2 separate regions of the Homo sapiens genome follow, and region 1 is linked to region 2. The links come from fine-mapping of genetic effects on gene expression. A gene starts in region 2. The other region holds a variant in brackets. All regions are shown on one strand. Distances are between the middles of the regions.

What was found. PIP is the estimated chance that this variant, and not a neighbour inherited with it, causes the effect.
Region 1: its variant is fine-mapped to the expression of PAX1 in synovium (Steinberg 2020, PIP 0.95).

Annotation. Positions count from the first base shown.
Region 1 is chr20:21,313,079-21,329,399 of GRCh38, reverse strand. XRN2 (5'-3' exoribonuclease 2) reads right to left here. Exons shown (of 30, transcript NM_012255.5): 2 at 2,994-3,121; 3 at 2,799-2,910; 4 at 730-841. Among named protein-coding and RNA genes, the nearest start is that of XRN2, 18 kb to the right of the region's middle. The variant CACACAG/G (reference allele first, on the strand shown) is at 8,093.
Region 2 is chr20:21,696,442-21,712,762 of GRCh38, reverse strand. PAX1 (paired box 1) reads right to left here and starts at 7,099. Exons shown (of 5, transcript NM_001257096.2): 1 at 6,765-7,099; 2 at 5,696-6,325; 3 at 4,063-4,205; 4 at 3,319-3,541. The coding sequence starts at 7,050. LINC01726 (long intergenic non-protein coding RNA 1726) reads left to right here and starts at 9,178. Exons shown (of 5, transcript NR_109878.1): 1 at 9,178-9,441. RefSeq lists enhancers at 9,256-9,860, 11,072-11,677.

The DNA of each region.
Region 1 (16,321 bases), 380 kb after region 2:
AACAAACCTGCTACAACCATACCCTACCTCACACACAGGTGTGGTAGGAGAGAACCAGTCCCAACTGGCATCAACACTCCCTGATCTTCCTTTTCTCTGAGGCTTAGTCAGTTCCTACCCATGTAGCCACCAGGAATTTTAAGGCTTTGGGGAACTGCAAAAATGAAGACATCCCACCCTAACCCCTCCAAACTTGAAGGAACCATAAGTACTGTGCCTGCTCCATCAACCTATATTGAAAGTATGCAAATGACTTGGCAACAGCCTGTAAATGTGGATCGAATCACCTCCGGCTTCCTCAGATAGACCTCTGAGTTTCAAAAAGCAAGCAAACCAAAGCTGATTTGAGGAAAATGTTTACAGCACTATAGCTTTCTGACAGCCGCCACAGAGAAAAGTAGTAAAAAATACTTACTATATTTCTATTCTACAGAGACATAAAAGTTTGTTAAAGAGCTGCACTGGCCCTGAGAGGAGTTGACAATCTGCAATCTCCACCAGAATTCCCTATTCCCAAGGCTCCCTCTTACTGGAGAGTTTGAAAATAAACAAGCCTATTAAGCCTATTGGTAGATTTCATGAACTACTTTTCCTCAACAGTGAACACTGGATATTCTGGGATCCTTATTAAATTAAAAGCTTGCCTCTTTGTAAGAAAAAGTTGCCACCACCCCCTCATTCTGCATACATCTTATGAAAAAATCCAACTTCAAGATGCATATTCTTTACCTTTTGCCAATATTTCTTCCCTGACTCGCTGCTTCTCGACTGCTGCTTCCATTCCTTCTTTTGATGCCCTGAACCTCCTTGAACGCTGCTGGTTCATTTTAGCACGTGGTGCCTGAAAATGTATTTCATATTCCATAACACTCATCAAAATATTCACAAATAAATCTGTACCTTATTTTGAATCAGTTGTTCTTATAAAAGCAGTACACTAAAATGGAAGAAAGGTAAGTAATGTGTCTAATAATCCTTTCATGACAGATACCAGATGCTGAGAACTTAAATTTGGACCGAGAACCCAAAAGCTGAGCTCAATCAGGTGAATGAGTGCCACGTCAAATGGACAAACATCCTATGAAGCCCTAGCACTTATACTTCAAGCCCTCCCAGTCTAACACCAGTTCCCCTCGGTTAGGGTGCTTGATTCAGGGCACCCAAGAAAGAAAGCTCACTTTACTCAAAAGACCCAGCCAACATCTGATGAGCAGTTACTACTGAACTAAGATCAGGAAGACATTCTCTATGTCCACACCTAAAAGGAAGAATGGTGTCCAAATGGGATCCACAATGTCTCATAAAAGCAACAGAAAACTATTTCTTTATGTGAAGAATCTCGGTGCACTTCTATTTCCCACAATAAGGTTTATAATTTTTCTGTCTTTTCAATAAGGCATAGCAGTTAGAAAGAAATAATGCCTTAACCAGAAGTACTTTTAAATCACTCTAACCAAATGCAATTTCAGTGGAAAAGCCCAAATAAAGTGAACTAGATTGTAAGATTTTCGAAGTTACTGAACTGAGTTTTGGGGTGGGAAGAAACTGTGAAATATCCTGTTTACATCTAAATGTAAGTTATTTAATATTCTCTTTAAACAATTCCCTTTTCTGTAGAATGAGACCATCTAATGAAGCCCTCTCAAGTACAAAGTTCTGTATCTACATTTATATATAAACAAAAAAATGTGTGTATAAACATGTACACACACATGCATATAAATGTGTACATATTTTATACTTGATGTAGCAGAAAGAACACACTGGAGTAAAGCTAAAGATTTCTTCAAAAAAAATTAGCTGAATATAAACTGAAATGTGCTCTAAACAAGACATATTCCTTTTCTTTTTACTCTTTACTCCATTCTAACTGCAACTTAGCAAGTTATCAGGTAGCTAAGGTTTTTCACTGAGTAAGACGAATCTCACAGAAAAGTTAATCTTCTTGGATTCAAAGTTCTCTGAATTTCCAAAATCATCCCATTAGCCGCTAGGATGCACTAAAATTAAAAGAATCTACTTGCAGATAGCTAAATAAATTTAGAGTTATATCTTACCTTACCCCCCTAATAGAGTTTGCTGGTCATTTATAAAAGGAGCTACTTGGTATTATTATCATAGGTCAGTAACTTACTCCTCTCAAATCATTTTCATGACTACTCATTGCCTATAGGATACAGTCCAAACTCCAGACGGTAAGGCTTTCTCAAGCTTTTGCTATACTTCCCTTCTCAATTCAAACCACCTGTAGTTGCCAAAACATGTCAGTGTGGTCAAAGGCACGGAAAGTGTGTTTACCTGCCACATTTGAGAAATCTGGAAGGTCCTCCCTCCCCAAACCCTGTCCCATCCATCTCCCACCACCACCCACCAATCTCCCAATTATTCTTCATTGTTAAAGAAATGGAACAAAAGTCACCTCTTCTCTATATCCTAACTTCCTTAGTAGCACTGACTTCCTCTTCCCTCAACACCCTGCATGTATTATCTAGTGCTTATAATGCCTATAAATAATTAAGCTCACCCATTTATCTATGCCTCCTTCCCTTTGACAGTAAGCCAAAAGTTCAAAAGCAAGGGCAGTCGCCAACATCCCCAGTATTTCACAGTACTGAGCACAAAATAAGCACAAAACACACACACAAAAAAACATCTGAATGAATGACTGAAGGATGAGGCTTTCTTTCTCAAGTTCATCACTGTCAACATTTTTCATTATTTAGCTGACTTTCATTCTAGACACTGGTAACACAGCAAAAAAAAACAAAATGGAGGCTTCTAATTATTTTAGCACTTACCACTCCATCTATTGCCATGTAGAGAAGTCTTCTTGGTCTTACAATACTGAAAAGTCTGTCAATGTACTCAAAAATTGCAACCATCATTTCATCTTCATTTTTTGGTGCTGGTCTATAATGACAACCAAACAATGTAATATAATATAATGTTTCCTCTGTGATTTGCTATATCAGTGACAAAAATGGGTTACGTACTTGTCTTCAGGATGAGTACAGGGATGGATGATTCCATTCATATCCAAATACAGATTATCAAACTCCACATCATTTGGATTAGGTTTACTGGCATCAACTGGAATCTTTACACCATTGCATTCTTTTGGCTATGAGGAAGTGATAATTAATAGTAGTTTGATTGTTCAAGTCTAAAAATGACAGATCCTAGGCTCAATATGAACTTGTGTTTCATTTCTGAACTGGAAATAAAACACTTCAAGTAACCTTTAAATTATAATAAGTTATTTTATTCCTTAAAGCAAACTGAAGCAGATATTTTATCTGTAGAAAGTGGATGGCTTCTAACACAAGTTATTTTTGACAATGTAGATGTTTAGAAAATTCACAAATCATTCAGGTTGTTCAAGTGAGAAATCATGGGAGTCATCTTAAAATTCATTTCCCTCACCACTCACATCAGTAAGTCCTGTCAAAGTAACGTAAAAAATGCTTACCTACTTCATCTCCTTTCATTCCCACCACCATGAACAACAAGAAGTTACCATCTCTAACCTAAAAGAGCACAACAACCTTCATCTAGTCTACCCCACCTCTAGACTCTCTGGTCTCCAGCTCACTTTCTGCATTGTCAGAGTTCTCTTTCTAAAACATAAAAGTGTACGTCCTTAATCTTACCTAATTTTTCTAATGATTCTCACAGCAGGTGTTTATCAATGAGCCTGGAGCCTTCCTAGTCTCCTATCCTGCCATACTATTGTTGAAGCCCACTCACTCTCTTGTAAGTTCCTGGAAAATGCCTTTTGATCTCTCAATGCCGTCACATGATGCTTCTTTCAGAACACCTTCTTCCTCCCTTGTCAACACCCACTTCCTGAAAAATTACTAATTTCCAGGGTCTACACTCAAATCAAATGTCACTCACTTTATAACACCTTGTACATATCTCCCAAGAAATTGTTCCTTCTGAATTTCCTCATAATTTTGCTTATTCACTTGTAGCACTTCCACTGTTTTACAGTTAGTCAATCTACCCCAGCTACATTGAGTTCCTCAAAAGATAAGGGCTTACTCACTGCCAGAGATACTCAATTATGTTTTTGTAAATGTTACTTCCTTTGTTTTTCTCTTCCAGAGCCTCAGCAAGAGATTAAGACTATGAGATCTAATTTTTACTATTAACAATAAAAGTCACTTAAAAAAATAACAGTTCCTCAAGCACATATAAAGCATCACTTGTAACAGCAAAAACTGTAAGCAATTTAAAAGCCCATCATGTACATACTACATCATGGATGAAGCTCAAAAACATTAGGTTAAGTGAAAGAAGCCAGTCATGAAGTACCAAGTACTATACAATCCCATTTATATGAAAAGTCTAAAATAGACATGTTTGCAAATATAAAAAGTAGATTAATGGTTGCTTCAGGTGAGGGTGGAGACAGGGGAGGGAGATGGGTAGCAACTGCTAATTACTTTTGAGAATGAAGACCCTCTAAAATCAGATAATAGTGATGATTGCACAGCTCTGTAAATATACTAAAAACCACTGAATCATACACTTTCAGCAGGTCAATTTCATGATACACAAATTATATCTCAATAAAGCTGTTAGAAATAGAAATTTAAAATCAGGTATGGTGGTATGTGCGGGTAGTCTCAGCTACTTCGGAAGCTGAGGTGAGAGGATTGCTTGAGGCCAGGAGTTCAAGGCTGCCGTGAGCTATGATCACACCACTGTATGCCAGCCTGGGCGACAGAGTAAGATCTCATCTCTTAAACAAGTAAACAGATCAACTTAGAGGAAAGGAAACAAGCCCATCAGGAAAAGAATAAGCTCATATAACATCCATATACTTGTGAGATGCAAGTGAGATTGGAAGAGCTAGAGCTAGATGGTCACAAACATACTAGGCCAAAAAAAAAAAAAGAACATATACAGTATACCACTTACAGAAAGTTATGAATAAATAAAACAGCATTCAATATTGCTCAGGGACGAATACATATGCAATGAAAGCATGGTGAAAAGCAAAGGAATGATAAACACCAACTTCAGGATATTGACTGTCTTTGAGAAGGAATCACGGGAATGCAACTGGGCTTCAAGTTGCACTTAGAATTGGAGGGAAAGAATAACAAAAGGGATTTAAGGCAGAACAGAGAAGAAGCTACTAGACAATCTTCTGTACATACATGCTGTGAATCAAGAAAAAAAGGCTTGATCAGGAACAGTGAGTGGAATAAGTGGTAAAGAAAAAAGCAGGTCAATTCTTGGGGGGGTGGGTGGAGTCTATAGAAAAAGATAATTTGATGACCCCAAAATTAAAACAAACTCTATGATGGCAAGAGGCTCTCTGCCTCTTCATCTAACCTCTACACCCCAAAGTCCACATCCACCTTCATCCTGTCCAACGGCCCACCACACTCAGGAAAATCAAAACTCATTCTTTGTGCCCTCCAGGAAAAAAATCAGTAAATATTTCAGACCTGCTGGCCATATGATCTCAGCTGCAACAACTAATATCTGCCTTTGAAGAGTGAAAGCAACCATAAACAACACAACATGAATGGACATGGCTGTATTCCAATAAAACCTGACTCACAAAAACAGGACGTCACCAGCAGGCTAATCCCTGCCCTAGTGCCTAGCACAAGAAAAGGCACAGCTCTTCATATGGAGTGGAGCTACATGAGAATTTCTACTTCTACTACCTAGGAAAAAAAATAAAGTACGGAGTAGGTGGGTCCTAATTTTGAGAAAAGAGCTCCAGGTATTCCCAGTAAGAAAACTGAATATATTTTCCCCTCAAGAGTACTGTAGACATGTCCAACACACTTATTATGTAACTTTAGAATTCCTTTCATCAAGAGAAGACTCTGATGCTCAACAAAGAACTGACTCCTCAAGAACCTTGTCCAATGCTATACCAACACGTTTCCTGTTCAGTTAAAGAGAGATCCTTAATCAAAGGGCAGCTAAAAGGAGAGCCACTCTGAACCCTAAAACCAATGTATTTCAAGTAATGACTTTTAATTATTTTTTGGATTCCCCAGATGACAGACTGAACACACACTGCAGTCTTCCCTTTCTACCCCAAGACCACATGAAAGACCAAACAAACAAACAAACAAATCTACTGTATAACTACGGCGGAAAACCAGAATTTGTGGCTGAGAAATGATGAGTGATACCTAAAATATGGGCAACCAATAGCCCTAACTGAAGATGGAGTGCAGTACCTCCAACATGTGAGAAGAGATATGCTGCCAAAGGTGGGCTAACACAAGAGGGCTCTAGGCCCAGAGAGGAGGCTCAAGGGACAGCTTCTGGATGATTCATCAGCGCCAGTCACAGCAACAGCCAGATGGGTCAACTCCTGCCCTCTCCTCTCCCTTCACCCACCCAGGTCCCATGTGAACCAGGCAACTTGAGACAGAAGCTCCCAGAGAATGTGAAGGCTTAGGTTAGAAAGGCAGTGCAGTGCCCTGGCTGAGTAACAATGCCTAGGAAGGAACAGAGAGCACCCCTACCAGAAGGCTGGCAGTCAAGGTAGCTCTGCCTAGTAGGAAGCCTGCTCCTTCGTGACTTCATGGATAAAGCAGGGGATATATTTATTCCAAATAGGCAGTTGGGATATCATTATATTTGTGCATGAAAATGCCAAGAAATCAAGATAAAGAAGGTATTTAAAGAAGTAAAGATAATACAAATATACAAATAATGTTTGTATAAATATACATTACACAGGTTTTGAAGTATATCCCTAAAATGAATTTCATGCCAACCCACTGTTCCAGTCAACCTTATGAGGAGAAACCACCACCAATAGCTCAGTAGATGCATTGTTTTTGTTTAAACCTACAAAGGATTTAACAGGAACATTAGAAAAACCATGAATCATGTCTGAGGTTCCAGGGCAACAGGAGTATCCCACTGATGGAAGTCATATGCCAAACCATACAACTCAGTTTCAGATTTCCCTTAAAGAAGCTTGGAACTATGAAAAGAAATTCAAACCATGGGTGATATTTTAGAGAGAAATGGCCAAAGGGCTAATGAAAAATTGAAATTACAGTATTTTGGCTTAAAAATTCAACCTATAATAAGACAATTTTAACACTTATGGGTGATTAGTATTTTTTCAAGTTGTACGTGTGTTAGATCTTCATTTTTATACGACGTTAGTGAATGAGGACTAATAATTACCACTAGCATTTACGGAGCACTTAACGTGATAAGCACTGTTACAAGGGCTTTTACTCATGGATTATTCCATTCTATCCTCACAACAACCTTGTGAGGTCTGGAGTATCCCACTTACAATTAAGAACACAAATGCTTAGAGAGGTTAAGTGGCTTTTCCAAAGTCACACTACTATAGATTCAGGAACTAGGATTTAAAACCATGACTCAGAGATGGTACCTTAACCAGTATGTTAGACTAATTAATTGTAATTTCACTAGATTCAAAGTGATGTGTACCAAGGTCTATATCAGGTACTACAGAGGATACAAAATAGGCAAGGTGTGTGACATTGATCATCATTTGCTAAATAAAGTCTTATCAGAAGATTTTATTCTAACATGACAGCATGAAGAGCTTCAACGACCTGCTCCCCAGTGAAACTGGTAAATATTACTTTTAAAACAAAAACATTTAAAGCCTTTGGAAATGATCCTGAGGGCAAACAGCAAGCAAATCAAGAAAACCTGTAAAAATTTTAGAACAAAATTCATTTGCAAAAGTGCACAGTAAAGTTTAAAAAACAAACAAAAAAAAGCTGTTCTCAAGAACAGTGAAAGTAGAATGAGGCCCAGTGGCTCATGCCTGTAATCAGCATTTTGGGAGGCTGAAGCGGGAGAATCACTTGCACCCAGGAGTTCAAGGCCAGCCTGGGGAACATAAGAGTCCTGGAGCCCCATCAAGAATCAGGAAGGTACAGTGGCATGTACCTGTAGTCCCAGCTACCTAGGAGATTAAGGCAGAGGTCTGCATGAGCCCAGGAGTTGGAAACTACAGTGAGCTGATTGTGCCACTACTGCACTATAGCCTAGGTGACAAAATGAGACCCTACACACACACACACACACACACACACACACACACACACACACA[CACACAG/G]CCAGGCACAGTGGCTCATAACTATAATCAGAGCAATTCGGGACACCGAGACAGAGCACTTGAGCCCAGGAGTTTGGGATCAGCCTAGGCAATATGGTGAAACCTCATCTCTACAAAAAATTAGCCAGGTGTGATAGCATACCTGTAATCCCAGCTTACTCAGGAGGCTGAGGTGGGAGAATCACCTGAGCCCCGGAAGTTGAGGATGCAGTGGGCCAAGATCGCACTACTGCACTCCAGCCTGGGCAACAGAGTGAGACCCTGTCTCAAATACAAAGAAACAAACCAAAACAGTGCAAGCTATGGTGAAGAGCAACTGGGAGGAGACTAATAGATCTAATGAAGATACAGGCCTGGACTACAGGCTAGTTTGCAGAAGAAAACTCGGGATTAAGATGGCTGGGAGGAGCCCTCCTGGTGTTAGCACAAATACCAAACACTGACGTCAGAAACTAATTCCTGGAAAGATCTACAATTTAGGAGTTCGAGATCAGCCTGGCCAACATGGTGAAACCCCGTCTCTACTAAAAATACAAAAAATTAGCCAGGTGTGGTGGTGCATGCCTGTAGCCCCAGCTACTCGGGAGGCTGAGGCAGGAGAATCGCTTGAACCCGGGAGATGGAGGTTACAGTGAGCCAAGATCACGCCACTGCACTCCAACCTGGGTGACAGCAAGACTCCATCTCAAAAATAAATAAATAAGGCCGGGCGTGGTGGCTCACGCCTGTAATCCCAGCACTTTGGGAGGCCAAGTCAGGCCGATCACGATGTCAGGAGATCGAGACCATCCTGGCTAGCACGCTGAAACCCTGTCTCTACTAAAAATACAAAAAATTAGCCGGATGTGGTGGCAGGCGCCCGTAGTGCCAGCTACTCAGGAGGCTGAGGCAGGAGAATGGCGTGAACCCGGGAGGTGGAGCTTGCAGTAAGCCGAGATCGTGCCACTGCACTCCAGCCTGGGTGACACAGCAAGACTCCGTCTCAAAATAAATAAATAAATAAATACATAAATAAATAAATACATAAATAAATAAATGATGCCAATAGGTAGTGGGATAACATAAAAAGCAGTAAAGAAGTGGAAACAAACAAACAACAACAAAAGAACCCTGTCAACCAAGAATTCTCAGTCCAGAAAAGCTATAGTGCAAAACTGGGGTGACATAAAGACTCAGATCAATAAAAAGCTGAGAGAATTATTGCTAACAGACCACACTGTCAAAAACTACTAAACGAAGTTCTTCAAGCTATAAAGTTACAAAAAGTTTACTAAAGTTACTAAAGCAAGTGACTCTAGATGGTAATTCAAGTCCATGCAAACAATAAGCACAAGTATATTTTCCCTCCTTTCTTCTCTTAATTGAATTAAAAAGCAATTGTATAAATATTACATAGTATAATGTTGAGCTTATAAGGCAGAATGTAATATATGTGTAATATATTTGCCCTAATAGCAAAAAGGGGTGGATGGAAACAAAGTTGCAGTGGGCTAAGGAAATGGCTACAGACGGTAAAGTAACTCTTAAAAAAATGTATTGTTGGATTATGTCAATATATGTAATATATATAACAATAATATACAAAGGGGGGATGGGAACTGAACTATATAGCAGTAAAGTTCAATAAATTTTAGCATGTATTACTGAAACTAAGCAAGTATAAATCTGAATTTGATTCTAGCAAGATACATAGGGTAAGCTCTAGAACAATGACTTTGAAAAAATATATAGTGGAAAAAATTACTAATGAATTTAGAATCCTTCTAGTAACTGGCCACTGAATAAGAAAAGAAAAAAATTTGAATGCTATATTAGAAAATATCCTCTCATTGCAAAAGAAAGCACAAAGGAGAAATAGAGAAAAATGACATGAGACATACAAAAAACAAAAAGTAAAATGTAACTCTATCAATAATTACATTAAAATGTGAATGGATCAAACAATCCAACAAAAAGGTAGCTTGTCAAAGTGGATTTTAAAAACATGATCTAACTCTGCGTTATCTACAGGAGATACACTTGAGATTCAAAGACCCAAAAGAGTAAAAGTAAATGGATGAGAAAAGATAATCATGCAGACAGCAACCACAAGAAAACTGGAGTGGCTATACTGATATCAGATAAAACAGACTAAAACAAATAAAAAAATGTTACTGGAGGTAAAGAGGGTCATTTTATAACGATAAAAAGTAAATCCATCAAGAAAAAGATATAACAATTAAAAATACAGGTGCACCTAATAACAGCACCAAAATACACAAAACAAGACATATGGCAATTCAACAATGATAGCTGGAGACTTCAATACTCCCCCTTCAATAATAGAACAAAACAGAAGATCAACATGAAAACAGATAATTTGAACAACACTATCAACAGAGACCTAACAGATATTTCTAGCACATTACACTTAACAGAATATACATTCTCAGGTGTACACGAAATATGCTCTCAAAAAAAGTAAAAGCATAGAAATAATACAAAGTATACACTCTGACCACAATGAAATAAAATTAGAAACCATTAAGAGAAAAAAAAATTGGCAAATTCACAAATATGTGGAAATTAAACAACACAGTCCAAAATAACCAAGGGATCTAGGAAGAAATCAAACGGGAAACCAGAAACTACTTTGGGATCAATACAAATGAAGACACAATATACAAAATGTTATGGAATACATATAAAGCAGTGTTCACATGGAAATTTATAGTTGCAAATGCTTAGATTAAGAAATATCTCTTCAGAAGTATTTGGCTCTGAAAAAGTTAATTAAAAAAAAAATCTCAAATCAATTACCTAACTTTCCACCTTAAGATACCAAAAGAGAGTAAACTAAACCTAAAGCAAGCAGAAAGAATAAAAGATGAGAGCAGAAATTAATGAAACGAAAATTTAAAAATAGAGAAAAATCAATGAAACCAACAAAGCTAGTTGTTTAAAAAGGTCAACAAAAAATGACAAACCTTCAGCTAGTCTGATGAAAGAAAAAAGAGGGAAGACTCAAGTTACTAGAATCAGAGACGAGAGACAGGACATTACTGCTAACCTTATAAAAACAAAAAGGATTATAAAGAAATACCATGAATAGTCATACACCAACAAATTAGATAACTTAGATGAAATGGACAAATTACTAGAAAGACACAAACTACCAAAAATGATTCAAGAAAGACATAAACTGCATAAACCCATAACAAGTTAAAGCAATTAAATCAGTAATCCGCAAACTACCCAAAAGAAAAGTCAAGTGTAAATGGCTTCACTGCTGAATTGCATCAGACATTCAAAAGAAGAATTTGTACGAATTCTTCATGAACTCTTCCCAACAATTCCGAACACATTTTATTGGGCCAATATGACCAATACCAAGACCACACAAAAACATAAAAGAAAAAACTGCAGACCAGCATCTCTTATGAGCATGGATGCAAAAATCCTCAACAAAATACAGTCAGCCCTCCGTATCTGTCAATTCTACATCTGTGGAATAGATCAATCATGGATCAAAAATATTCAGGAAAAAAATGGACAGTTGCGTTGGTACTCAACATGTGCAGACCTTTTCTTGTCATTATTCCCTAAATGGTACAGTATAACAACTATTCACACAGCATTTACATTGTACCAGGTATTTAAGTAACCCAGAGACTATTTAAAATATACGAGAAGATGTGCATAGATTATATGCAAATATTACACCATTATATATCAGAGATTTGAGCCTCCGTTGATTTCGGCATCCACAGGAGGTCCTGGAACCAATCCCTCACAGATACTGCAAGACGACTGGACTAGCAAACAGAAGCCAGCAATATATTAAAATATTATACACCATGACCAAGTAGGATTTATCCTAGAAATGCAAAGTTAGTTGAACATCCAAAAACCAATCAATTAAACACATCATATTAACAGATTGCAAAGCAAAATGACACGATCATCTTCATATAGAAAAAGCGTTCGAAAAATCCAACACTTTCATGATTAAAAAAAAAAATACTCATCTAGAAATAGAAGGGAAATTCTCAACATAAAGGGCATCTGCAAAAACAAAAACAAACAAACAAAAAAATAACCTAACAGTTAACATCATACTTGGTGGTCAAAGCCTAAATGCTTTCCCTCTAAAATGAGGAATAAGACAAAGATGCCTGCTCTTGCCACTTCTATTCTGGAGGTTCCAGCCAGGGCAATTAGGCAGGAAAAGGAAAAGGTATTGATATTAGAAAAAAAAGAAATTAAACTATATTTGCACATGACATGATTGTGTATATAGAAAATCCTAAGGGATCCACTAGAAAATTATTACGATATATGACTTCAGCAAGGTTATAGGATACAAAATCAATATATAAAAATCAATTACATTTCTATACACTTGCAATGAGTATTCCAAAAATAAAGTTAAAACATTCTCACAATAGTATCAAAAAACTAGGGCTAAATCTAACAAAGAAATACGAAATTTATATTTTGAAAACTACAAAACACTGTTGACAGAAATCAAAATAGTTCTAAACAAATAACATCCCATATTTATGGAACACAAGACTCAACATTAAGATGACAATACTCCCCAAACTGATTGACAAATTCAACGTGCTCTGTAATCAACAGTAATCAAGACAGTGCGGTACTGGGACAAGGATAAACATTTAGATCAATGGAATGGAATTGAGTCCAGAAATAAATGCACACAGCTATTATTAGCTGATTTTTGATAAGGTGTCAAGATCATTTAATGGGGAAAAGAACAGTCTTCAACAAATGGTGTAGGACAACTAGATAGCCAATGCAAGAAAGTGAAGCTGGACTATTACTTCACACCTTAACTCAACCCAAACAACTCAAAATGGATCATGAACCTACATTTAAGAGCTAAAGCTATAAAACTCTTCCGAAAAACAGGTGTAAATATTTGTGACCTTGAATTTGGCAATGGAATTCTTAGATATGCCATCAAAAGCACAAACGATAAAAGAAAAAAGCAGATGAACTGCACTTCATCATCAAAATTTTAAACTTTTTTGTTTGTTTGTTTTTTGAGACTGAGTTTTGCTCTTGTTGCCCAGGCTGGAGTGCAATGGCACAATCTTGGCTCACTGCAACCTCCGCCTCCTGGGTTCAAGCCATTCTCCTGCCCCAGCCTCCTGAGTAGCTGGGATTACAGGCGCCCACCACCACACCCGGCTAATTTTCTGTATTTTCAGTAGAGACGGGGTTTCACCATGTTGGCCAGGCTGGTCTCAAACTCCTGTCCTCAAGTGATCTGCCCACCTCAGCCTCCCAAAGTGCTGCGATTACAAGCGTGAGTCACCACAACCGGACAAAATTTTAAACTTTTATTCTTCAAAGGACACCATCAAGAAAGTGGAAAGACAATCCACAGAATGTGGGAAAATATTTGCAAATCATTTATCTTATAAGGGACTTATATTCAGAATACATTCTTTAAAACTCTTACACTTCAATAGGACAACCCAATTTTAAAAGGGCAAAGAGGCCGGGTATGATGGCTCACGCCTGTAATCCCAACACTTTGGGAGGCTGAGGGAGGTGGATCATCTGAGCTCAGGAGTTGATTCGAGACCAGCCTGGGCAATATGGCAAAACCCTGTCTCAACCCAAAATACAAAAAGTTAGCCAGGCATGGTGGTGCCTGCCTGTAGTCCCAGCTACTCAGGAGGCTGAGGTGGGAGGATAACGTGACCCTGGGAGATGGAGGTTGCAGTGAGCTGAGATTGTGCCACTGCCCTCCAGCCCGGGTAACAAGAGTGAAACCCTGTCTCAAAAAAAAGGGGGAAGAGGAGACAAAGAACCTAAATAGACATTTCTCCAAAAGATACACAGATGGCCAGTAAGCACATGAAAAGATGCTCAACACGACTAGTCATCAGAAAATGCAAATCAAAACCACAGGAGATACCACGTCACACACCCACTAGAATGGCTAAAGCCAAGTCAGATAACAAGTGTTGGCAAGTGTGGCATAGTTCTTTGGCTGGCCTTGGACTAACTCAGTTCCTTTTCTTGCTCATAGTTCTCAAAAGTGACTGTAGAATGTGATGGTAATGCAATATCCTGAAATAGGGAAGAACTGCCTGAAAATGTCCAGCCTTGCTCCTGTCCCTCCCAGGAATTTAACATCTTGAGTGAGGGCGCAACTGCCCGGGACAAGGTGGGCTTTGTTCCTTTCACCCCTGGAAGCAGGACATTTTTTAAAGCATTAGCTCAGTGTGTCACATAAACCCTGAGGTGTATAACCCAGAGTGGGCTGCCTTTCAGGGTTCCTCTCCCGCCATGTAAGTGTGGCCCCTGCAGTCAAGACTCTATCTGCCCCGGGCATGTTTCCTGAGCCATGGGGGACCCATTCAGAATGAATCCTAGGCTTCTGTTGTCCTTTACTGTCTATTTGTAAATAATAAACCCTCTTCATGTAACATTGTACATGGATGTCCTTGTCTCCTCAGACTCAGACAAGTTGGTAAGCAACACACAGTAAACCTGCTTCACAGCAAAAATGTGGAAAAATTGGAACCCTCATACACTACTGGTGGGAATATAAAATAGTGCAATCACTTGGGGCTAGGAGTTCAAGACCAGTAGGCAACACAGAGAAACCCCATCTCTTAAAAAAAAAAAAAGTTAGCCAAGCATAGTGGCACATGCCTATAGTCCTAGCTATTCAGGAGACTGAGGCAGGAGAATCGCTTGAACCCAGGAGTTCAAGGCTGCAGTGAGCTATGATCATGCCATTGCACTCCAGCCTGGGCAACAGAGCGAGAACCTGGGAAAGTGGCTGGCAGTTCTTCAAATGATTAAACCATATAATCCAGCAACTCTACGCCTAGGTATACACCCAAGAAAAACGAAAACATATCCACATAGAAACATAACATGAATGTTTAAAACAGCATTATTCATAATAGCCAAAACATAGAAACTGTTCAAATGTTTATCAACAGACAAATGGATGAACAAAATGTGGTATATCCATACAATGGCACAGTATTTGGCCATAAGCAAATAATAAAGTACTGCGACATGCTACAACATGGGTGAACTTTGAAAACATAATATTAAGTGAAAGCAGCCAGCCAGAAACGACCATATTCTATAGATTCCTCTCATGTGAAAGTCCAGACTAGGAAAAATCTATATAGACATAAAGTAGATTAGTGGTTGCTTAAGGCTGGGAGAAAAGGAGACAGCAGTTAGAGGGACAACAGCTAAAGGGTACAAGTTTCTTTTCAAGGTGATTAAAATGTTCTAAAATTGACTGTGGTGATGGATGCACACATTTGTGAAAATACTAAAAATCACTGAGTTGTACACTTTAAATGGGTGAATTTTATTGTATGCAAATCATATCTCAACAAAGCTGTTTAAAGAATGTGGTAACCAGCTCCAAAGAAATAATCATATTAGAGAAAATAGAATGTAGGGTCAAGGATAAATGTCCACCTTATGATTTTTCTCCCTTCCCTCAGAGTGATGCCTATCACAAAAGTAGTACTCAATGAAATGGAAGAGAGAAAAGAGGCAGTGGAGGAAACCTGGATTTCATTACATGAGAACAGTAAGACCACACTGTACACTACAACGCAGTATTACCAAGAGTTAGACTCAAAAACATCTCTGCCTTTACTTGGACACATAAACTACTAAACATTAATTTACCAAATAAAATTCTGAAATCAGATTTTCCAAATAGTTGCCATTTAGCAAATGCTTCTGTAACAGGATTGTAACTGGTATTAATACATCTAATCCACACAACCACCCTCTGTGATACATACATAGCCAATCTTCATTATTCATGAATCCCATATTTGCAAATATGTCTACTCACTGAAATTTATTTTTAACCCCAAAATTAATAATCATGGTACTTTCGCAGTCATTTGTGGACATGCACAGAGCAGCGAAAAATTGAGTCACCCAACATACACATTCCCAGCTGGCAACAAATGAGGACACGCAGCCTTCTGCTTTCAGCCCTTGCACAGAGATGACCAGAGGGGGAAACTGTAGGGAGCAGCACAGTGTAGCGTAGTGTGTTAACTTACACCAAATTTGGCCTGAGGATGGCTCCTTACTGATTCTTCACTTGAAGAACTGCAATATTACTTACATAAAGTCCACTAAGGAAAAGCCTAACTTAGGAGCATACTTCTGTAACAAAAAGCAGAGTCTCCGCCAATCGCAGCAGTCGAGCTT
Region 2 (16,321 bases):
TGCTCTTTGACAAAGTTTACTTTTAGGATCTTCCAAGAACCAATCCCGAGGCAGAGGTAACTGGAGCGAAGCTGCAAGTTATCTTTAACAAATAAAAGCAATACATTTTCTTTGTGCGTATGCAGTATCTTATAGATTTGATTTCCAAATCTTTAGTCATTCCAGAGCCCCACGAGGAGGGACTTAAAACCCTGAGGTTTCGAGGGTCTCTGAAAACATCCTGTAAATACCAGCTGTCTTGAGGGAGCATCTGGTGGTGTCTGTCACCTAAGGGTGGGGAAGGGGAGATGGTCGTGCCCTGGCTATGAAAAGACATTTGGATGTGGGTGGAGATTCCTAGAATGTCAGCCTCTCCAAGTGAAGATTAAGCGAAACTTTTTCTATTCTTCTCAATTCCCAAAAATTAAAGTTTCCTTTCAGGGGATGGGAAATGTAAATCATGCTTTTTACCTACATAATAGGAAACCCAGACTCACTACCTTTTTAAAAAATAAGAAAAAAATGAATTATAGTATTAAATAACACAATTAATCAATTAATATCTAATTAAATGCTAAATTTTCGATTTGACATTTGATTAAGTTTCACTTAGGGTAACTGTTAAGCTGTTCATTTGCACTAATTTGGAGGACATATTGATATATATTGCACTGTGCGTGTGTGGTGTGTATGTGTTAGGTGATCAAAGGTATTTGCTTTTACTGAGCATTTATTGTATTAAATTGCTTTTCATTACACAGAAGAATTTTTTCTTACTGAAAAGGAGTTCACTAAATACTATTCTCACTATTCTTATGAATTGAACAATTGCTGATAGTAAATTGTCCTCTGGGACAGGTTTCTTTGAAGATATTAATTTCTTAAGAACTGATCAGAAAATAAAAGGCAGTGATTCTTATTATTTTTCTGTCTTTCCAAAGACCAGTTGTGTTGAGGGAATAGATCTTTGAAGTCAGCTGTTCTACCAGTAAGGAGTAAAAATCCATAACCCAAGCATGTATGTAATTCTCAGGCTATGAATATAGATAGATAATGAATGATTATTTCTACATTCCTGTTCGAACACAAACAGTTGCATGCCAGCTTGAGAAATCATTGCTAATGGTGTCCCCAAGTTATCTGATTATCTTTTATTAGAACCTTTAAAGAAGTTGGAGGACCACAAAATTAAATTATTAATTTAATAACTAGAGTAACAAATTATTGCTGTAGCTTTTAAAAACAGGTGGGATATTACATAATAGGAAACTGATATAATGGTAAAAGGGACTTATGCCAGCACCATTCAATGACCCTGTATTTCTGAAAAGGAAAGTGTCTTCTAAAGAAAATCAATCACCAGTGAGGCTTAATGTTAAAATCAGCTTCCCCGCAACTTCCACCACAAATTAAGACAGGTAGTTTAGAATTAGGAACTGTGTGTGTTACCTTTGGCTTATTATCTGCACTTTATAATTTGTGTCTAATGTAGAGCTTAAAATGCCTCCAGGGCAAAGTGGCTCTATTGAAAACAAATGCATTCCTCTGAAGACTGTGGGTCTTTTTTCTAAGTCTTCCTTCTCCTTAAGATGAACCCAGTGAAATATTTCAAATCTGTGGTTATACATTTTTAATTCAAAAGAACCTGCTTATTTAAGTGATTTGTGTAATGTGGTAAATTTTATTTTGATTTCGATTTCGACAGATAACCTCAGTTGTTGAGAAAACAGGTTGATTGGAGGCTGAGGATGAGTGAAGCGCTCATCTGCGACCCCTTAACTATCCTTAAACATAAAGCTTAAAGGAGTTCTTACTCTCAACTTTTAACATTTCCTTCACTTGGATTTTTCTATAAATGAGTAAATGATAGTATCCTATTTAAATTAAACTTAAAGTTTAAAAGAGCTCTAAATCCCAATTTTTATAAATTTTCCTTATTTGGATTTGTCTGTAACTAGGCAAGTGAACATTATCCTAATATCCCAGGATGTCTGTGCTCTAGGAAAGGTAGAAATAGAAAAAGTATTTTTCTCCCTTCATTTCACTGTTGTGGATGGCATCTTTATTTCCTTCCTGCCCCCCACCCCACCCCCACTCCCCAGGGCATGCCCTCCTATCTTATCAAGACTACTTGGAAATAGCACTTTTTGCCTGGGCAGCACCAAGGAGGATGGCCCTCCTGTCCCCTGCCTGCCCACTGCCACCTGCCACTACATCCACCTCGCTTCCAGCCCTGGACAGGTGGAGGCAAAGCAGCTAGTAAAAATCCTTTTATAATCTGGGAACTCCACGCTGTCCCCCAGGTTTGTGCCTTGTCTCTTTCTCTGCTGGGGCTGGGACGACCTGGGGTGACCCTTTCCTTTCCCAGGTTGGTTGAAGTTGCAAATTTCTGGTGCTCAGAACCTAAGCACTGGCAAGTTTGAACTTAGCAAATCAAGCCATTCCTTTTAACAACAAAGAAAATGAGGACTCAAGGGCTGGTGAGCTTTTCCCAAGTTAAAGGAAAAACTGGAACCCTCCTGGTTGTGTGAGAAGATCCCCCTCACACTGCTGACTGTCAGTGAAATACCTAAAATCTGTTCCTCGACTTTTCAGGAAGTGGACTTATGGAAAAGGAAGAGAAGGAGGAAGCGGAAAAGGAGGCAAGACTCCCAGGCACATTTTCCACAGAAAGAGAGAACCCCCCCACCCGCCCACCACCACCACCACCCACAACCACAGAAAGCTCCTGAGCCTGGAGTAAAGGACACTGATTCACATGGCCTCTACTTTCCCACAGTGTGTATTTAAGAAAAAGAATCCAAACGCCTTTTTTTCTCTCTAAGGAACCTGGAAAAAACAGATGGGCAGTGGGGCAGAGACGGGAAGGGTCTGGGGATGGAGGTTAGGTGCCACTAGCAAGTCCAACCCCACCTAAAGGGCTTAGGTGCCAGAACAGGTCTACAGAAAGGTGAGCCTGGAGGGTGCCTGCTAGACGTGTCTCTGGATGGAGAAACAGAAACCCAGAAAGAAGCAGGAACTTGGTCGAAGGTGCCAGAACCGGATCCAAACCCACGCGTCCTGTGTGCCAGAAGGACCTCCTTTCACCTCTCCCATCATAAGTGGAGGGGACAGTCTTGGGGCCAGTCTCTCTCAACCTCGGGTACCTTTATAGGGACACCTGTCAGAACTAATCTGCTCCAAGAAGCTACATGCTCAAAGGTTAACCCAGAAGAAGGGTTCATGCCCAGGACCCACCTCTTCCCCACCCGCTCTCCCTTTTCCCAGGCTCACACCCGCTCCCCAGTACCCTTCCTAACCCTTCCAGCATCCACCCGCCCCACTCCCTGCGCTCCTCACCTTCTCGGCTGGGATGCTTGAAGGTCATTGCTGCCGCGAGTTCCCCGCCATGCACAGCTACGCCGGCCCCGGGGGGCGCCAGAGGAGGACCTTGCGCAGGCGGCCACGGCGGGCCCGGGGCGAGGTAGCCGCCGCCCGGGGCGCTGTACACGCCGTGCTGGTTGGAGGCCGGGTAGGCGCAGGCGGGGAGAAAGCCGCCCACGGCAGAGAGGGTGGAGGCCGACTGTGGGGATAGAGAGGGACCGTCAGCAGCAGAAAATCCTGCCTTCTCTAGCCCACGCCATCACTGAGACGGGGGTTTTCGTCCATTATCGCTCCCCCACGTCCTGTGCCCATCCATTATCCCCATGCGAGGCCTGGCCTCTAAATTTCCTAGTCAGGACTCTTTGGCAAAGTGATTTCTAAGAATTCACTCAAACTGTTACAAATAACGATGTGAAGGGGTCATGGTATTCATATCGGGATTTAGAGAAAGAAGGCCCTTGACTGTGGATTCGTCATCTGGAGTTCCAGCTTTTTTTAGCTAAGCTATCTTGGCAAAGGCAAGTCAACCCCTCTAAAGTCAGACTCTCCCAAACTAGTACGCTTGAGGAAAGGACAGAAAGGACGCTTGCTAGCCGGCTGCCAGATACAACCATCTCTCTGCCTGGAAATTTTTTCTTTTCTTTCTCTCTCTTTTTCCCCACTTGCCCAAACCTTCTGCTTCCCTACTTAAGGTCACGGCCTCACGTGCCTCCTGGTTACCTGAGTGTATTTAATGTCTGCCTCTAAGGCAGGTTTCTCTAGCCCATTCACTGCGGGGGTGGCGGGGAAGGCCGTGCGGTTCACGCCGGCCCAGTCTTCCATCTTGGGAGAGTAAGCGGTGCCTTCGCTCCCAGCCAGGGCCCCTGCAGGAGAGAGAGGACGGATTAAAAGGTGCCTCCGAATCTGCCCTGGGCACACGTGTGGCCAACCACCCAATTTGTATCTGAAGACACGGCCAGGGGTCCCACAAAATTTGTAGGTGGCCTGACACTCCACCAGGAGGCGGCAGGGACTGGAATGTTCACCACTCCGGGTGGGGCGGAGGAAAGGCAGCCAGGCCTGCTGCCCGGTCCTCCTAGCCTTCAACCGGTTTCCCACGAACGGGAGGCTGCTGCTGAGTCAAAGCCTGGGCAGACTCGGCCAAAGCGGCCGCTCCATTGTCCAGACACGGCTCCCAGAAACTTCCGAGTTCAAAGCTACAGCAACCTCATGAAAATTGTATTGATTTCTCAACATCTGCACAAGCCTCTGGAGGGCAGGGAGACGATTCTACGAGAACTGCCTCTGGAAACGCCCAGGGTTTCCCAAAAGAAGCGTCAACATTGTTGTCCCCACGGGTCAGATAGAAGCACACAGCTGCTCCCCGGGCCCTTGTGTGTGCCAGGAACCAAGGGAAACCTCCAGATCTGCGTGCAGGCTTGGTGGGGTCACCTCCAGACCCCTGCCATTCCATGGGAAGCTTTAGCCTTAGGCTGGGTTAGAGCCACCAGGAGACACAAAGCCAGAGCAGGGCCACAGAGGCGCTGCTGCTGCTGGAGCTGAGCACTCACAGTTTCTTTCCAGCCACCACTCTTTCCTCCTAGGCTATGGTGAATTTTGCTTCTTGCCCTCCTCCTGAGTCTGATCACCTAAGAGTGTGCCATCCCCTGGCCAGCTGCTGGCAGCTGGGGAGAGCGCAAAGAAATCCAGACCCGATTCTGGCTGGTTTCTTTCCCAGCCAGGCATCAAAGTTGTTCCAAACCTCCCGCCTTCCCCATCTTCCTCGTCACCCACTTGACCTATAGTGTGTTAAGCTTTAGTTGCAGATAAATGACAAATCCTTGTGAAGGTGGCTGCAGCCCCACCAGCCATCACCGCAAACTCCAGGACCTGCAAGGCCACAGGACCTTAGAGATGTAGGCCACTCAATCGACCACAAGATCCCTTTTCCTTTAACTCAGAAGAGCCACTGGGCCTGGGAGTGGGGGACAGAACCCTTGGGAAATCGTGAAGGATTCTGAGAGCTAAAGAAAGGGTCTCAAAATTGAGCGGGTTTTTTTCCCCCTTAGATTTGGCAACAGGGGCTTGCATACTTTTTGCAAGAATGAAAAAGCACAATTTCAGGCCTCCAAATTTGTGGTCGGCGATTGCTCTTCTATTTGGGAAATATTTTCCATATTTGTCATAAAAAGTTCAAGATGTCCGAGGTCTCTTACAAAAGGCCCAGGACCCCCAGCCTCCCTGGCCAGTGTGGAGCCCTCCCCTGAGCCAGAACCGGTCCCGGGAGGAGAGCGAGTGTGAGTCCTCTCCTGCAAGCCTGCCCGCCCCAGGTTCTGCCCCTTAATAGAAGGCTACGGAGGCCGCCACAACTGACCTGTTTGCTCCATAAACGTCCGGATGCCCAGGATGTTGCTGACCGAGTGTGCCGAGGGCCATGAGCGCGGGATGCTGACGTGGCCCGCCGTGCCCGGGACCCCGGGGTGGCTGCCCATCTTGGCGCCCGTGGGCGACACGGGACTGGGGTAGGGGTACTGGTAGATGTGGTTGTAGGGCAGCGTAGGCTGCGACGGCGGCTGCTTACTTGCCTCGTACGGTCCGGGCTGCGCCAGGCTGCCGATCTTGTTGCGCAGGATGCGGCTGATGGAGCTCACCGAAGGCACATTGTACTTGTCACAGACGCCGTCGGCCAGCAGCCGGTCGCGGATCTCCCAGGCAAAGATGCCAGGGTCTCCTTGCTTGTAGTCCCGGATGTGCTTGACCACGTTGGGAGTGGTGACGCGGGGCTTGCTCCCCCCGATGGCCCCGGGCAGAATGGAGCCGGTCTCGTTGTAGCGCGCCAGGATCTTGCTCACGCAGCCGTGGGATACGCGGAGCTGCCGACTGATGTCACAGGGTCGGATGCCCAGCTGCGCCAGCTCCACAATGCGCAAGCGGATGGCGTTGGGCAGGGGGCGGCCGTTGACGAACACACCGCCCAGCTGGTTCACCTCGCCATACGTCTGCTCTGCGGATGCGCCAGACAAGAGTGAGCCGGAGGGGGAGAAAACACCCGGCGGGTTAGCCAAGGGTCCCCACGCGGAGCGAGGGACTGCACCCAGGCGCACTTCCAAAGGTGACCTGTGGGTCCCCAGACAGCTCGGAGTCCAAGGGCAAACCGCCTGGGTCTGGCTTGGAGTGGGCAAGGGCGCAGAGGAGCCGCGGAGTGGAGCGCGGCGCATTGTAGCCCTCCGTGCCCTTTCGCGACTTTTAGCGCGTCTACTTGGAACACTCCCTTCCCAGACTTGCTCAACTGCCCCCTGAAGGCTGGGGATCAGAGGAGAATGCAGCTTCTCCAGGACCCAGGACTGGGTCGCCCAGGGAAAGCGGACGAGAGGGAAGGGAGGCAGGCGGACCCGACCCACCTCATCAGCCCTCCCGAGCCCTGCCTGTCGCCCGCCCCTTACCCATAGCGAGCGGGCCGGCCAGCTGCCTGGCGCCGGGGTGGCCGGGGTGGCCGGGGCTGGGCCCGGCGCAGTCCGGGAGAGCTTGGGCGCCGCCGCCGCCGCGTGAGAGGCATAGAGGGAGGGCGCCCGAGAGCCGAGAGCCGCGGCGGCCCAGCCGCGGGCTGGAGACGCGCTGTGCGCGGCAGCGGAGCGCGCTGCCGCCCGCTCCAGGGCCTGCCGCCGCCGCTGCTGCCCCCTCCCAGGACACTCTCCACGCCCGCGACCCCAGGCCCAGGGTGAACTTCATCCGATTGGGAGAAATTCGTCTGACCGGGAGGCTGCAGCGTGCGGGAATCAATTTGACGTGTCCTCCACGTCAATCTCGGCAGTCACGCCGGAGACGCGCGAGTTGGCAGCTCATTGGTTCCCGTCACTGCGCCCCAGCGCCCCCCTCCCCGCCCTGAAACTCTACCCCCTCCTTCTATCCTCCCCCCTCGGCCCTCTTCCACCACCCCCCCGGAACCCACCCCTCTACACACACACACACACACACACACACACACACACACACACACACGTCCCAACCCCAGCTGGGCCTGGGACCTTCCACTGCTCTGAGCCCCTTTCAGCCCCCTTCCTCCTCTAGCTTTGGGAATGAGGGGGAAGTCATCTCAAATTGATTAGTGTGTTAGTACTAGTACTCGTTTTCGTTTTGGTTTTAGTTTTATTTCCGCCACCATTAATAATAAGATAGAGAATAAAAGTTTATCGTGGAAAGGTGTTTCGGGTGTGGCTCTCTCTACCTCCCCACTCCCGGGGCAGCGGCCGGGGAAGGGTGGGATCAGTACCCCAGCTGGCTGGGAGTGTCAAGGTGAGCGTCCAGCGCGGTGCAGGGCTCCTGTCAGGAAGACACAAGGCGGAACTTGTGTCCCATTCCTGGCCAGGTCCTCAATCCTTCTCTCAGGAAATCTTCACGTTTAATAGCCAACCACTCTTGGAATAGTGGGGGTGATTTCGGTGATGCGAGAGGGGCACGGTCCAAATCCTGTCTCCTACAGCCAGGCCCAGCCACCAGAACTCATCCCTCTCCAAGCAGTGACAGAAGGGGCAGGAGGCAAAAGGATCCCGATCTGCTGCTAAGGGGCGCATAGATCCGGCGCCCTCCTGTCCCCAAGCGCGACCGGCGGGAGGCCAAATGCATAGCTCCAGCTCTAGGTCTGAAGGACAAGTTCCTTTCTCCCTGGCGGTGGAATCTCGCACCACTCTATCCCAGGTGGCCTGGCCTCGTCTTTCTCCCAGCACCTGCAGCTTCAGGAAGTCTCTGTTAAACCACAGAATGGTCATTTCTCCTTCATTTAAATGAGGTTTTGCGCAGCCCTGAATTATTCACCCCTGAGATTGAACATCAACAATTTCTCTGTTTCTACCCTGCACCAAAGCAGTTCTGAACTCCCCAACCTGTGCAGCTAACTGTGTCCGGGAGCCATGCGGTGAGGGCCAAGAGGAGGAAACTCGTGGTTTTGAACATGAACTGATTTGAGGGGGTCAGGATCTGAGAGCTCTGAGGTTGAGCCCAGTAAGCACCAAAGGCATTGGGCTGAATGTGCTAGACCAGGAAGAGGGCATAGGGGAGAGAGTAGGAACAGCCGAGGTTTCTGAGACTCCCAGCGCTCCCCTGGAGGAGAGAACCCTCTTCCCCTCCCTCCTGCCCACCCCAAGGGTCTAGCTCTCCTTAGCCACCCAGAGTTGAGTATGGCGCCAGCGCGGTGACAGTGGCTGAGGAGCACATGGACCCTATCAGCCCACCCTGGGGAGCCATGGCTGCGGAGGCCCCGACCCCTTTGCCTCCGCTGTAGGGCCAGAGAGCATCCCTGGCTCCTAATCCACCTGTCTAAATGTATCTGTCAGGAGTGACTGGCTCATAATTCCTGGACTCTCTAGAGAGAGCACGCGGTGGGGCCACAGACAAGAATTACTCCTGGAAAAAGAAAAATCAGGTTTAAAAGAAGTGAACTCTTCCTCTCCGGCGGCATGAACACAGTACAGTCTCTGGCTCTGGGAGGTCCTGGAGACCTGGAGGAGGTTTGAGGGTCAGTGCACTGGCAGGAGGGTGCGAGAGTGGGAGCAGGGGAAGCTATGTAGAAGATTAGGCCTGTCCATGACAGCGTAGGTTTGGAGTAAGGAACAGGGAAAGGGAATGGTTTGGATTAAAGTGGGCACGCCTAAGCCAGGAGTTCCGCGAAGGCAGCGAAGAGAGGACTAAGCACGCACAGTATGCTCGGGGCTCCGGGGGTGCGGGGAGTGGGGACGCACCCTGCCCAGTGCTCTCCATTGCGGAATCTGCTAGCTTCGTCGGGCGCGAGATACCAAGAAAGGTTGATTTCCAGACCTTGGAGTCTCTGAGATAAAGGAACGCCACATCCCTGCCTCAGTCCAGTGGATACTCGTGATCCGGAAAAGCAGCTAAAGCCGCTTCTTCCCCCCAGTAGGTGAGGAGTCAACAGGCACACTCTAAAGACGAGGAAATAAAGCCGGTCGTGACACCGTGAGAGCTGGTTCGCCCAACTACCCTTTCAGGGGAACGTCCACCCCACCTCTGCTGCCGAGCTTGGAAAAGTGGCAAGGAGTCGCAGTCCAGGACAAAACTCCGCCCCCGTCCCCGTGAAGGCCGCCCGTGGCTGGGGGCTACTGTAGAGGGGTGAGTCTGGGGATTGCGCACGATGAGAGGGGGTGGTTCTCCCCGGTAGCAGAGTCCGCGAGCCTTCGTCTCAATCCTGGCCCCTTTCCCGCAGCCAGCTGTGCGCGATCGGGAGCACACAGCCCTCGCTGCAGCCTTCTGCACGGTCGGGCATAGGGAAAACCTTACAGTTTGTCGCCCCCTGTCGTCCCCCGGCCGGGTATCGCGGGTTCCCGAGCTGCAGGCTAGGCTTGGTGAGAGATGGCCCTAAGATGAGATTGCAGAAGGAAAAGAAACGTCTCTCCCACCTCCCAAGGAGGCAGCTTAGCCCTCTCCATGGCCCGGGGACAGCTACTAGTCAGCGCTGAGCGCACAGAGGTAAAGAGCTCGCGGATTCTGCGTTTTTGCTTGGCTGGGTTTGGCACCGTATTTCAGCGTCCTCTGGAAGCGGAGTGCAACAAAGTTCCGCTTCCAGGGTCGCGGGAGCCTGTTAGCTGAGGGCGCACTCAGAAACCTGGGGCAAAACTCCTCCGCCTGGGGCTGGACTCCTAGCAGGGCAGAGGATGGATCTGAGGGTACCCCAGAGGCTTCGGGCCCTCGCCCAGTTTTCCCAAGGCAGGAAAAGAAAGAGAGGTAAACTCTTTGCCGAAAGCGGGAGTCAAAAAGGAGGCGCGAAGGGGTGCCTGCCCTTCTGGGGACTGGGGGTTGGCGGCAAGGGGGGTTACTGATGAGAACTCCCTTGCTGCACGCCACCTGAGCCGTGAACTCAACACCCGAAACTTCACACTGCTAAACACCCAGGGGTTCGGTGACAGGGCCGCTCTTGGAGCTACAGTCGCCCCCACTTCATGTCTCATACTTGGCTTTGATTTTTGGTGGGTTTGTTTCCGGGAGTTAAAACAAGCAATAGGCCGGGATGTTCCCCGGGCCCATGCATTTCAAGGACTCCAGGAGAAACCTTAAGAAAAAGCTGATTTAAGTCCAACTTGGGCATACAGGTGCGCATTTCGGTTCTTGCGGGAAGTAACAGAGGGCAGAAAACACAGGTGGCACTCCCCGAGAGCCCTGGCCAGACTTGGGCCTAACAACGAAAGCTGGTACCCACCAGCAGCAGCCCGCAGGGGCCGCAGGGCCGGGATCCCGGGTCTTCCTCACGACGTCCTAGCCTCAGGCCTTAATAGGCCCGCTTTCGCTCCTGCATGAGTCCTGGCTCTGCTCAGGACCTGCGCTTTTACTGTGTTTTTAAGAGTTTTAAGAGCACTGAGCCATGAGTCCTGTGGTTCAAAATCAAAGTCAAATTGAGTCTCTTAATTTTCTTCTTAAATTTACGTTTGAAGGGGAAAATAAAAAAGCAGCTCGGGCTAAAAACGCACTTTATGCATCAGGTTATAGTACCAAGCTCCACACGTACACATGCCCGTAGTTTTGCAAAAAAGATCCGCCACATCATACTTAAAAATAAGAAGAAAATTGACGAAAAGAGAAATGAGGAGCTGCTAGCTGCAAAGAAACTATGGGAAGAAGAGCTGAGCCAGATCGGGGAGCTGCAAACCCTGGGGGAATGCGAACAACTAACAAACCAAAAGCTGGCTTGTGTAACAACACAACGAAACTCCGCGGGGAATGACTGCGGCGGTGGAAGGAGGGAGCGAGGAAGGGGAGAGGAAGACTAGATTCTGAATTGGCGCCTGTGAGCGCCGCCTCGGAGCGCAAGGTCAGAGCGTCCTCCCAACAGAGTGGATCCTCAAGGACGAGGTGGGGAGTGCGTTTTGCACAGAACCTGCCTCTCCTGACTAGGACACACAGACTCTCCAGACCCCAAATGGAAGGTGTTGAGGACCCTGCCAACTGGCATTAAAACAGAGCCCCCAAGAGCGAGAAATAACGTCCTTGGCTTCGCGGACCCATTCCCGCGGCTTATTTTCCTTTGGCCTGCTGCTGACCAAGGCGGTCGTAAAGTTGGTTCTTTGCCTAGGCCTCCATGATGTTCGCTACCCTGGAAATGTTTATTATCGAAAATGAGTCGGGTCAGCTGTGGTGGATGGAGCACCGTTTCCGCTGACACTGGCCACTACCAGCGAGCAACGTCCTTGGCAATGCATGGCGAGAGAAGCCAGGACAACTTTTTTCATTTTCCTAAAGTGAAATGAATAAAAAAGAATAGGTGAACATTTTCAATGTGATTAACAAAACGGTGGAAGACCAGTGCTCCTCAATTCTGTTCAGAGATGTAAGAAAAAAGCAAATTAGAAAACAGATTTGCTGTGAAACCTGCACTAGAAATAAATAGGGGGAAATTGAGTATTGGCAACGAAGATCTGAGATACTTTCTACCCTGCAATGCAGGGATCTGACTACTACATTAATAACATTTACTTTGGAGTAGATATATTTTAAACGTGGAATTTGGCTGATAAAAATAAACTACAGAGGGTTGGTGCCCTTTGTAGGAAGAAACGGTTTCTAGAGCCTTCAGGAGGATCTGGCATTCTTGCCATTCTTGTGTGTATATTCTCACTAGCCCCAAATCGAGTTCTGCAGATTGCTATTATGTCTCTCTCTTTCCCTGGCAATGAGCATGTCAAATAAGCCTCAATTTCCTCTTATATAAAATGACCTCTACTGTGCAATTAGATCTGATTTAATTTCATTTCATCAACATTAATGCCTGCAGAAATTTCCAGACATGGGTCAAAATTCCACCTTCGCAGTGAGCACTCAAAAAATGTTTAAGTGACAGTATTAAGTCTAAATGTCACTAATAAAATGGAAATTATTTGGGAAACTTGAAATGTCCATGTGGCATATCTCCCAGGTATTTGGAAAAGGGGAGATCTAAGAGTAGCCACAGGGGTACAAAGGATAGAAATGGTATTTGTGAAGGGAGGCGAGAGGGAGGTGGTGTAAATGCCTGCAGGATTGTTCACAAAGGCAGCAGTAAGAAGGGTCTCCTGCTGTCTAGAGGATACCCCTGCAGATCTGACTAGCTCAGCTGCAAATATTGACGCGTGTGAGACATCCACACTGGCCCAGCCTAATTGGAACCAGCTTGAAGTGTGTTGCCCTTGAATGCAAGGGTAGTGCTTTGGAAATTCTGTTCCTACATGGTAATAGAACCTGAATAATGGACAAGGAAGGTGAAGGACCCATGTGGAGCCCTTTGTCTTGATTAAAGACAATGTCAAGCCAGTCCTTGTTTGCCTGGACTTGTCTAGTTTCTTATTAAAGATCAGTCCTCTCCAATCTTCAGCACACACCCACACAAAAACATAATTCAAGCCCTGAAAATGAGATAGGTAGAAGGTTTGCTAAAGGAACGCTAACACCTGCAGCTACTGCAGGTGTTAAAACCAAAGTACTGCTCCCATCTTCAGTTATCCATTTCTTCCATCATTAAAATTATGATTAGAATTAGATGTTAAGGCTTTTATTTTTTATATCCAGCATACTATTTAGAAACACCGCTATTTTGGAATAAAGACTTTGTTACACGGTTTTGTAAACTCAGAAGTCTTGAAGTCCTTTATAATTGAATATTCTCATGAAAGTAGGATCTCCTTCATGTTCATTTAATTTATCATATGTATATCACTGTTATTTCCACCCACCTTGGCATAAATCATTTTCCTTGTTAGGAATCAAGGATCTTTTATGATGAGCTTTCTTTAAGGCACAAATGGATTCTTTTTACTTGTGAGTAACTTTTTACTGTCTGCCTAGCCAATCACTTTTAACTAATTATTGTTCTACATATTTTTGTCTCTAATTGCTATGACATCCCAATGCTTGCTACATATACATACATACATACATACGTACATGCATACATACACACACAAAAAAAATGCACACACTCACACATATAATATGTCCGCAGCTTGGTGATGGTTTTAATTTTCTTCTCTCCCCCCCCTTGTGTACGGACTATGAAGTTTTACTGAAGACCTGTAATGCCTCCGGTTTTGATTTAATGTTTTGGAGTTTGTGATCTCATTGCCTGGCATGGAAAATATTAGACAGGGTCTGTAGATTTTATGCAGGAAAAGAGCCGCATCACCACCGCGGGTGAGTGCTTCTCCCCAGTCCTGCAATAAGCCGACTGAACAGTCATTTAGAGCCGATGTTCAGTTCTGTGCCGTTGAATAGACACCACTTCAACCAGTCCTGCTTTTGTAAAGGGTTCTTTAAGAAACACTGAATCTCAACTGGTGCTGCATATTGAATTCACCAAAGGGAGACTTAGAAGGCCCTGATGCCTGGGACCCATCCCCAGAGATTCCGATTGAATTTTTCTGGGCTGTGGCCTGGACACTGGGATTTTTAAGAGCTGCCCAGGTGATTCTAATGCGTATTGAAGTTGGAGAATCTGTTTTAGGAGAAACTGGGAAGAGAAGGGCTGGTGTAACATGATACTTCTTGCTTCACAAGTGTTTTCCTGGATGCCAGAGGAAAGGCGGGTGGCTCACTGGTCTCACCTCTGTGAACACCTTACAGTGGCTCATGAAAATATATTTAAATCCATGTCTAAAACAGCCTTCCTGGGCATTGTCACACTATGTCACTTTGACCCCTCCTGGAAACAGGGAGAACACTGCCTTCCCAGGCTGGGTTGGCTGCCTGACGTTTGTCATCTTTAAAGATCCCTTTGTCTTCCTGCCCTCACACAGGTGACCCCAGCCTCCTGCTTAGGTATAACCGTCCGTACAGCTTCACTGTACAGTAAGCTGGAGGGGTTGGGGAGCAGCAGAGAGTCAGCAACTGACTTAGCCTCTCGGGCTGACAGATCAAATTTGGGAGAGGTGGCAATGAATCATAAATGCTACCCAGTGAGGGAGTCCGAATGATTTCATTGTCCGAGGAGGTGGGAGTTGAACTCTACTCTTAGCACTGTTAAATAGCACAGTTCTCTAGATATGTAAGGTCACAGAGCAATCATAACCCTCAAGCTTCTGATGCCATCTGAGAAATACAGAATCTTCTGAAGGGCTCAGTGTAGTTTGTATCTTTATGACTAGTGGGGTTGTTAACATTATTTCATTGCCATGCAGCTTAGAACGGGGGTGACTTTTGCACACTGGCTAGGGACTACTGCATTGCAGATCTGAGTGTTGCTTTTATCCAGACCCAGACTTGTGGTCCTCATAGAACACTTCACATATGCTCTTCCAAGTCTCAGAAATCAACTAAAAGAAAGCTCCTTTTCATTTTCGCTAGCCTCACCTTGGTAATACATGTTAAAATCTAAACTGCTTGATTTGATTTGATTTTTATTGTTTTGTACGCTTATTCTAAAATACAAACGTCATTTCATTTTTTAAACAAGTTGCAAAAAATATGGAAGTAACCGCATCACTGTAGGACCTTTCTGTCCTCAAAAGGTACATAAAAGTACAGCATTGTAAGCAATGGTTTTTCAGATTCTTTTTAGCTGTAAAATGTTGTTACTAAGTCACTATTAAGACTAAAAGAGCAAGTACACAAATTCTTGAGGGGCTTTGGGTCTCATTTATCTTTTAAAATCTTGCATGGACACCTCTTGAGAAGATCTTGAAATGCATATTTTAGAAACCTCATCGGTTTTTTTAAAGTATCTTGTAAAATATTCTTTACATTCATCCACTTTAGTAAAATTAACTGTGTGTTATATGATGATGTTAAAATAATTTATAGGTACATGAAAATTAATAATAGCAACAACAGAAACTAAAATGTCCTTAAAATGACATTTAATATATGGTATTTCTCGGCAACACCCAGAAGCTTAAGGGTTATAGGGTTACAGGAAATGCAGTAACAGATGCTGAACGAGGGTGCAGGACTGTAGATTTTATGAACGGGTATGCTGAGGAAATGAGTTTTGACAAGGTTTCTAGGCATTTCAACATTGGCAAAGTGGCTAATTGAATTAACATCCGTCAGACTGGGAAATGCTCTACACTTGGAATATCTCTTTTTGGCAGGCCAACAAGGCGAGAGGTTTGCTCCCCTGTAATGGGTACCCTGTAACGGTACTGTCCATTTCGTTTTGCATAATAACACCTCTGGCTGAGCCCAAATTCTGTGTGGTTTAATCTCTGTTATGCAATTTTGTTATCCAAAATATAACCCAGTTCGTTTTGCAAGGGGCTGGTCATTTCATGTGCGGGATATGTGTTCATGTTTGCGATGTCAGCCAGCTGATTTGGGCAGAGTGAATCAGGCACTTTCGTCTTACTTTCTCTTTAAACTGGGGTGTAGGTAACTGTGGAAGAGGAGCTGTGGAATTGGCTGGGGCTTGACATTCAGCAGAACTTTAATTTGGACGAATAGCTTTAGGCAGGGTTTGATGGCGTTTTGTTACGACTCAGGCTTGAGGTTCTTCTGCCATTTTAGGCTGTACTCACCTGCCCTTCATTACAGAGGGAGTGGGGATTTAATGAATGACCCTCTGTTCTCATTGTGCCTTCAGAGCTTCTCTTTGCAGCTCTAGTATTTAGGCTGCTAGGAAGGTTGAAAAAATTTGTGACCAGACACTGTTAGAGCTACTACCCATGGCTAGTGCCTGCATGTGTGTGTGTGTGTGTGTGTGTGTGTGTGTGTATTTCATTGTCGAGTAAGCACACAGAGGATCTACACATGCTCTTTAAGGCTCAGTGTTTATAGGTCAAAAAATGCATATGCACCTCGAACTCAGAAAACCACCTGGCTACAGAAAAGTACAATATGGACAAGTCCAGCCATTTTTTTTAGCTCAAAAGTCCTCAGGCTGAAATCCATGTTCTGGATTCCACCTCCTGAGGCTTAATCTCATGGATCTCATGGACCTCAGTGTTTTCATCTATATGATAGGGTCATGGCCAGGGCCAAATCACCTAACCACAGAAAACACTTGATGACAGGAGATGCTGAATCACTGGCCATT